Linked DNA regions of Homo sapiens. The protein of the gene in region 1 purifies or fractionates together with the protein of each later gene. This does not show direct contact. Each region holds a gene or a part of one and is shown in the gene's direction. Other genes may lie near its edges.

Region 1 (3,661 bases):
TTCCTTCAAGAGCTCTTCAGCAGTCCGTTTGGTAACTCAGGTAATTGAACACCCTTGGTTCCCTCTGTCTCTTTCTAAGACAACAGAAAATAGTGGTTTTAAGAAAATCCAGGTCAGATTATTTTGGCAGATGCTGTGAGGACTCATCTGTCCCCATGGTGGTCCCCCCATGAATGAGGAAAGAAGGGAATGAGGCTTTCACTAGTTATTCCTGGACTTTTATTTGCACATCTGGTTTGTAAAATTTTTCTTTTTCCAAATTGGTATACTCTCACAGGTCCTTTATCTGTCTGAGACCTGGTGTGCCCTTCAGCACCTCACGTCCTCATTTCCCTTTCTCTTCAAATCTCAAGTCTCATCCAACAGCCTGATCCATATCACCATCATCGCTTACCTACCCTCCCTGTTTCTTCACTTGTCCTACCAGCAGCCATTGATCCCTATAAAAACAGTCAGGTCAGGCCAGGTGTGGTGGCTGACACCTGTAATCCCAGCATTTTGGGAGGCCGAGGGAGGTAAATCACGAGGTCAGGAGATCCAGACCATCCTTGCCAACATGGTGAAACCCTGTCTCTACTAAAAATACAAAAATTAGCCGGGTGTGCTGGCATGCGCCTGTAATCCCAGCTACTCAGGAGGCTGAGGCAGGAGAATCTCTTGAACCCGGGAGGTGGAGGTTGCAGTGAGCCGAGATTGCGCCACTGCACTCCAGCCTGGGCGACAAAGCAAGACTCCATCTCAAAAAAATAAATAAATAAAAATAAAATAAAATAAAAATAAAAATAGTCAGGTCACATTACTCCTCTGCTTGAAAACCTCCAACAGCTTCCCATTAGCCTTGAAAGAAAACCCCAACTCCTTTCCATGCTCCTTGAGTCCTGCCTGTTCTGGACACTCACTGTCTTCCTAGCCCAGCACCTCCCACTCTTCCATTGTTCAGGGTGCTCTAGGCACATGGCCGTCTGTCTGTTCCTTGTACTCACCAGGCATGCAGGTCCTGCCTCAGGACATTTGCACTTTCTGTTCCCTCTGCTCTGAATGCTTTCCCAGGACATCCACATGGCCCACTCTCTCACTCCGTTGAAGTCTTTATGTCACCTTATCGGAGCATACGTCCTTACCCCCATCTCTGTTGTAGCATCCCTGCTGTGCTCCATCCCCTCATACTCTATATTGTATGTGTTTATTTGATATATATACTATCAGATATAGTGTATGTTTATATGTACACTATAAATTATATATTTGTCTGATTTCTATTTGTCCCTCTGCACTAGAAATAAATCCAATGGAGCAGGGACATTATTTGCTCTGTTCTCTGTTGTACTAGAACAGGGCCTAGAACATAATGTTCAGCAAATATTTGTTGAAAGAAGTAAAGGAAAAGAAGGAGGGAAAGAGATTTAAAAATATTTTAAATGCCATATTTTAAAATCCCATATTTCAGCAGTACCTCTAGTTCATAGAAGTCGCTGGGCTCTATTCTCCTTCCAGGCCAAAAGGGGAGTAGAAGTCGGAGAACTGAGCCCCAGTATCCCCTGTCAGCCCACTGTGTCCTTGGGCTTGCACGTGCATGTCCCACCCAGCTCCAGGGCGTTGTGGGATGTGGGTGAGTATGCCTTGATTCCTGGCTAAGCCCATTTCCCACATGTTCTCACATGAAGGTGGTAGCTGGCACTGGTTGATGGCATGCCCCTGAGGGCCTGGCCTGAGTTGAGCATAACTCTTTTGTTACCTCATTTTATACTCATGACAACCCTACGAGGTGTAGCATCCTTCATCCCTATCTTTTCAGGTCTAGAAGGTAAAACCAAGAGGGGTTATGTACTTTCCCAAAGACCAACATCTCATAAATGGCAGAGCAGGACTTTAGGTTTTCCTGGCTCTAAAACCCATGATAGCATTGAGGTTGAGAGTCAGGCTCCAGGGTCAGTCTGTCAGTGCAGATCCAGGGGCTTTGGATGACTTGCCTTATTTCATCAATTCCAAAATGTGTATTTTTGCACATTGCCACATCTTAAAATCAGGACATGACATGCAATCAATAGCTGTTTCAAAATGGCTGTGGGTCTATGGCAGCTCACCCTAGTTGGGTGGGAAACTTTGATGAACCCTTTCTGGTAAGTTCAAGAAAGTGCCAGCATCAAAGGATCCTAGATTCAATGAAATATAGGTAATTATCCCTCTCAGCTTCCATGTCTTCATTTGTAAAATGGGAGTAACAGTGGTATCTACCTGATATAATTACTGGCGGGATTAAAGGAGCTAATATCTGTTTGGTGCTCAGCATGGTGGTTGCCACAGAGATGGGACTCAAGAATTATGGCCTATGTGCTGTGTTGTCATTGTTATTATTACTACACCCCACTCTGCCTTCAGAAGTTCCCCCAGTGGATCCCTCAGCACCTGAATTCTAGTAAAGAGAGAATGCATGGGTTGGGGGGGTGCTTTCTGGGGCTGCCCTTGTTTACATGCACACAGAGCATGCGTTCTCCCACGTGAGATGGTAAAATGGAACCACAAGATCTGTTTGCACTGGCCACACCCACATTTTTCAGTGCCAGTTCCTCCCCCTCTGGACCATCTGCCCCCTTTCCTGCTTCCCTTCCTTCTTGACAAAGAAAACAAGATATTGACTCAAGAGAACAGACTCAGCAAATGCAACAGGAAAGTAAGAAAGGGCTGCAGAAGTTGCCACTGGCTCCTCAGCTGGATTTCTTGTTTGGAATGGTCCCACAAGTCCCAAGCCATGCTGTGTGTCAGGACTGTGCCCACCCAAAGATGATTTCCCTGAGGTGAGGATGGATTCTGTCTACAAAGTAGGGAAGGTACAGCACAAATACTGGCTCTTTTGAAAGTGGCCAAAAGTCACAAAGGGATGGCCAGGCTTCTTAGTGTATCCTGGCTTTCAAACTGTCACTTGGGGCATCCTTGGGGCATGATATGGTCTTGGCATCAGAATATTGCATCAGAAAATGGAAAAAACTAGAAGTTGGAAAAACACATCGGACTCCAGGAACTTTGGGGTGTTCAAAAATGGATCAATTCATTTATGCACTCATTCAATTCCATCATATCATATTTATCATGCTCATATTATGATAAGATACCAGGATTTGGCCTTGCAGAAGCAAAGATGGTGTCAATTGAGGTATGAAATGGAAGACCAAAACACAAACCCGACAAATCTGTGAAATGGAATAAAAAGAAATCACCACTCTGTTCATTTGATTTTTCAATAAGCTTTTCTTTCTCTTTCTCCTTCCATCCATGTGGTAACCAGATGCAGCTGGTAGGTAAGCAGGCAAGCACTGCTCCTCATTTTACAGATGAATAAGAAACAAACTGGCTTCCAAGTCTTGGGGCTCTCCCCATGTGTGCTGCAGGGCTGCACTGGATTAGAGTCCCCCTGGCTGGGACATGCAGACTTCCGGTAGGTTCAAATGTCTCTCTAGTCACTGCTGTTAGTGTTTTACCCCGCCTCTTTGTTTCAAATGTGAGGCAGTAGTAAGATTTCAACATGGCAAGCAGGTTGTTCTCAGAGGGTTGGAAGGCAGGGACCCTAGAACACCTGTAAATACCATGTTCTGCCCACAGAAATGTGTAGGATAATCTGTGTGTGCGAAGCACTGGTTGGGTAGGAAGCAGTGAAGGGTGGGCA
Region 2 (3,015 bases), on another chromosome or scaffold:
TTGAAATATTGAGGTTTCATCAAGCCATAATGTTTACACTGGAAGCAAAAGAACTTGGAGCTTCTAATATCTTCTTCAAAGTCATGTCTGTTATGAAGGTGACTAATTATTTCTTTTTTTTTTTTTTAAACAGTGGCTGCCTTTTCTCTATCCTCTTTCCTTTATTCATTATCAGCGCCAATGAAGCAAAGACCCCTGGCAAAGCATAGTAAGTATTAGCCAGTGATGAAATTTTTGCTGTGTAAAGGGTTGGGGCTGTAACACCAGTTATGTCAGTGAGGCTTTTTAAAAAAAAAAATTCTTACTGTAGGAAAATCTTAATATAAGGTTTAATGAGAGAGAAACACTTCTGGGATATAACCCAAACTTTTCTCCATGCATATATGCACATGAGTATATATATATTTCCAAAACCGATCCCATTATACATATTCAAGTAGAGGGCTGTATGACCTGGCCACATGAGTTTATTGATAACAGTAGTAAAATATACTTTAAAATGAGTTTTTAGCAATAATAATAGCATTCTAAAAGTTTTATTACTTCAAAGAAAAGCTCAATTCATCTTTGATCAATTTTGGTTAAGTCAGTGTGGATACTTGTATTAGAGACTTAGGTCTGCTTTGGGTTTTTGTATGCTCTTGCTATACAGCACAGCTCACTGTTTATCTTAAGAGGAATATTTGACTTTCTTTTGAAACTCTTCTTCCTGCAACCACAGATAGCATATGATACCTTCAGACATAGCTTGAAGTCTGTACCCCGAAGTCAGCCATAGAAAAGTACTTCTCAAATCAAAGTTAATCTAAAATATAACTATTTCCTGTAAGAGCCACAATACTTCAACGCTGGTGACTGCATTACATTCATGGCAGCAGCAGGGCCCAATGCATTCTTTTTTTTTTTGAGACGGAGTCTCGCTCTGTCACCCAAGCTGGAGTGCAGTGGCGTGATCTCGGCTCACTGCAACCTCCGCCTACCAGGTTCAAGCGATTCTCCTGCCTCAGCCTCCTGGGTAGCTGGGATTGCAGGCGCATGCTACCATGCCCTGCTAATTTTTTTCTCAAGTGATCCACCTGCTTCAGCCTCCCAAAGTGCTGGGATTACAGGTATGAGGCACCACGCCCGGCTCCAATGTATTCTTTAGTTGCCTGTTCCATCCATGTATCTAATATCTGTATTTCCTTGATCAAGTTTCATTTGTCTTGTCTTTCCCTGTGTAGTTTTAAATTTAATGTCAAGTTGTCAAACAACGGAAATAATTTTGAGTAACTGGGGAGCTAACAAGTTGGGTTTCTTGCCTTTTAGTCTCTTCCAGTTGCGCCTCTTCTCCTTGGTGGTCTTCTTAAGCAACAGACTCTTCCACAAGACAGTCTACCTGCAGTCGGCCCTGAGCAGCTCTACTTCTGCAGAGAAGTTCCCTTCACCGCATCCGTCGCCTGCCAAACTGAAGGCTACTGCAGGTCACTGAGTTGCCTGCCATCCAAAGGGGATGGGCGGGATTGGAAGAAGCTGTGGCAGCTCTTTTCCCTGTTCACCTCCCGCCTGCCAGGGAAGGCAGGACCCGCTCTGCCAAGGGCCCTCTGCGTATTCCCTTCTCTCTGAGGAATTGAAATTTTTGTCTCTGGTGCACGTAAGGCAGAATGTTCCCTGACACCAGTGTGTGGATTTTTAACATCACCGTGAGTCTGAAAGGACCACAGGTTTTTCTGCAGCTATTTTCTAGCATTTGCCAGTCCCTGTGCCTGGACTGATTGGAACACTTTGTTTTTCTCCCTGTGCCATTTACCCTTCCACCTTTCCATCCTGCCTTCTACCACCCTTGGATGAATGGATTTTGTAATTCTAGCTGTTGTATTTTGTGAATTTGTTAATTTTGTTGTTTTTCTGTGAAACACATACATTGGATATGGGAGGTAAAGGAGTGTCCCAGTTGCTCCTGGTCACTCCCTTTATAGCCATTACTGTCTTGTTTCTTGTAACTCAGGTTAGGTTTTGGTCTCTCTTGCTCCACTGCAAAAAAAAAAAAAAAAAAAAAAAAAAAAAAAAAGCCTGAAGAGATGAGATAGGAGGAAAGACCTCACAGCCAGATCTGCTGGGTTTTGAGGAGTGATTTTCTTTCTTCCCCTTGAAGGGGAAAAAGCTATTTTCATTGGTACATTTAAAGTCCCCCAACTATGGGGAGGTACCAATTCTGGACAAGTGCCACTACAACAACACTAAACCTGAACTTTTCAACTCCGTTGGTGGTGGGAGGCAGCGGGCAGAAATTTACTGTTGGCCACTGCCAGGTCTATTTCATATTTCAAAGGAATATTGGGTGCTGCATATAGGAACTGAAGGGGTCAATGTATTAAACCTGTGATTGGTTGTTTTCCTGTCATTTTGAGAGACTAAATGTGGGGGGCAGATGTCAAAATACCTGTACAATTTTAAAATGTCACAATTAAACATGAGCTGGTTTCCCACAAAGTGTCTAATGGTTGAATTTGCAAATCTTGATTTCGAGAAATGTATTCATGGAATATAAGACTTTGTCTTGGATAATTTAGTTACAGTTTTGAGAAATTAGCCCTGAAAAATGTTCCCTGAGAAAGCCTGGATTATATGATTATAATCACATTTATATTTGGTAGAAGAGTCAGATTATTACTTTTTCTAAAGTCTATATGTATATCGCTACTGTATATTCATGAAGGGAGAAAGACCCTCCTAGATATTGGTGTATTGAGTATTAATCGAGGGAAGCCGTTAAACATCTGGTTAACAGAGACCTTTACTATGTGCAAGATAAAATATGGAATTAAAAATTGTTGCTGGGGCCAGGCATGGTAACTGATGGCTGGGATTCCAGCACTTTGGCAGGGGCCAAGGCAGGAGGATCACTTGAGTCCAGGAGTGCGAGACCAGTCTGGGCAACATAGTAAAACCCCGTCTCTATTAACTATAAAATAGGTTAGGCCGGGCATGGTGGCTCATGCCTGTAATCCCAGCACTTTGGGAGGCTGGGGCAGG

What was found. The genes of interacting proteins can lie anywhere in the genome.
Region 2: the proteins of SLC6A17 (region 1) and EI24 purify together in Homo sapiens (affinity purification with mass spectrometry; one large-scale study listed by BioGRID and IntAct). This does not show direct contact.

What each region holds. Positions count from the first base shown.
Region 1 is NC_000001.11:110,156,833-110,160,493, forward strand, and holds part of SLC6A17 (sodium-dependent neutral amino acid transporter SLC6A17), read left to right. Parts: intron 1-3,661. UniProt on the Homo sapiens protein: Synaptic vesicle transporter with apparent selectivity for neutral amino acids.
Region 2 is NC_000011.10:125,582,213-125,585,227, forward strand, and holds the end of EI24 (etoposide-induced protein 2.4 homolog), read left to right. Parts: intron 1-133; coding exon 134-208; intron 209-1,308; coding exon 1,309-1,471; 3' UTR 1,472-2,472; downstream 2,473-3,015. UniProt on the Homo sapiens protein: Acts as a negative growth regulator via p53-mediated apoptosis pathway. Regulates formation of degradative autolysosomes during autophagy.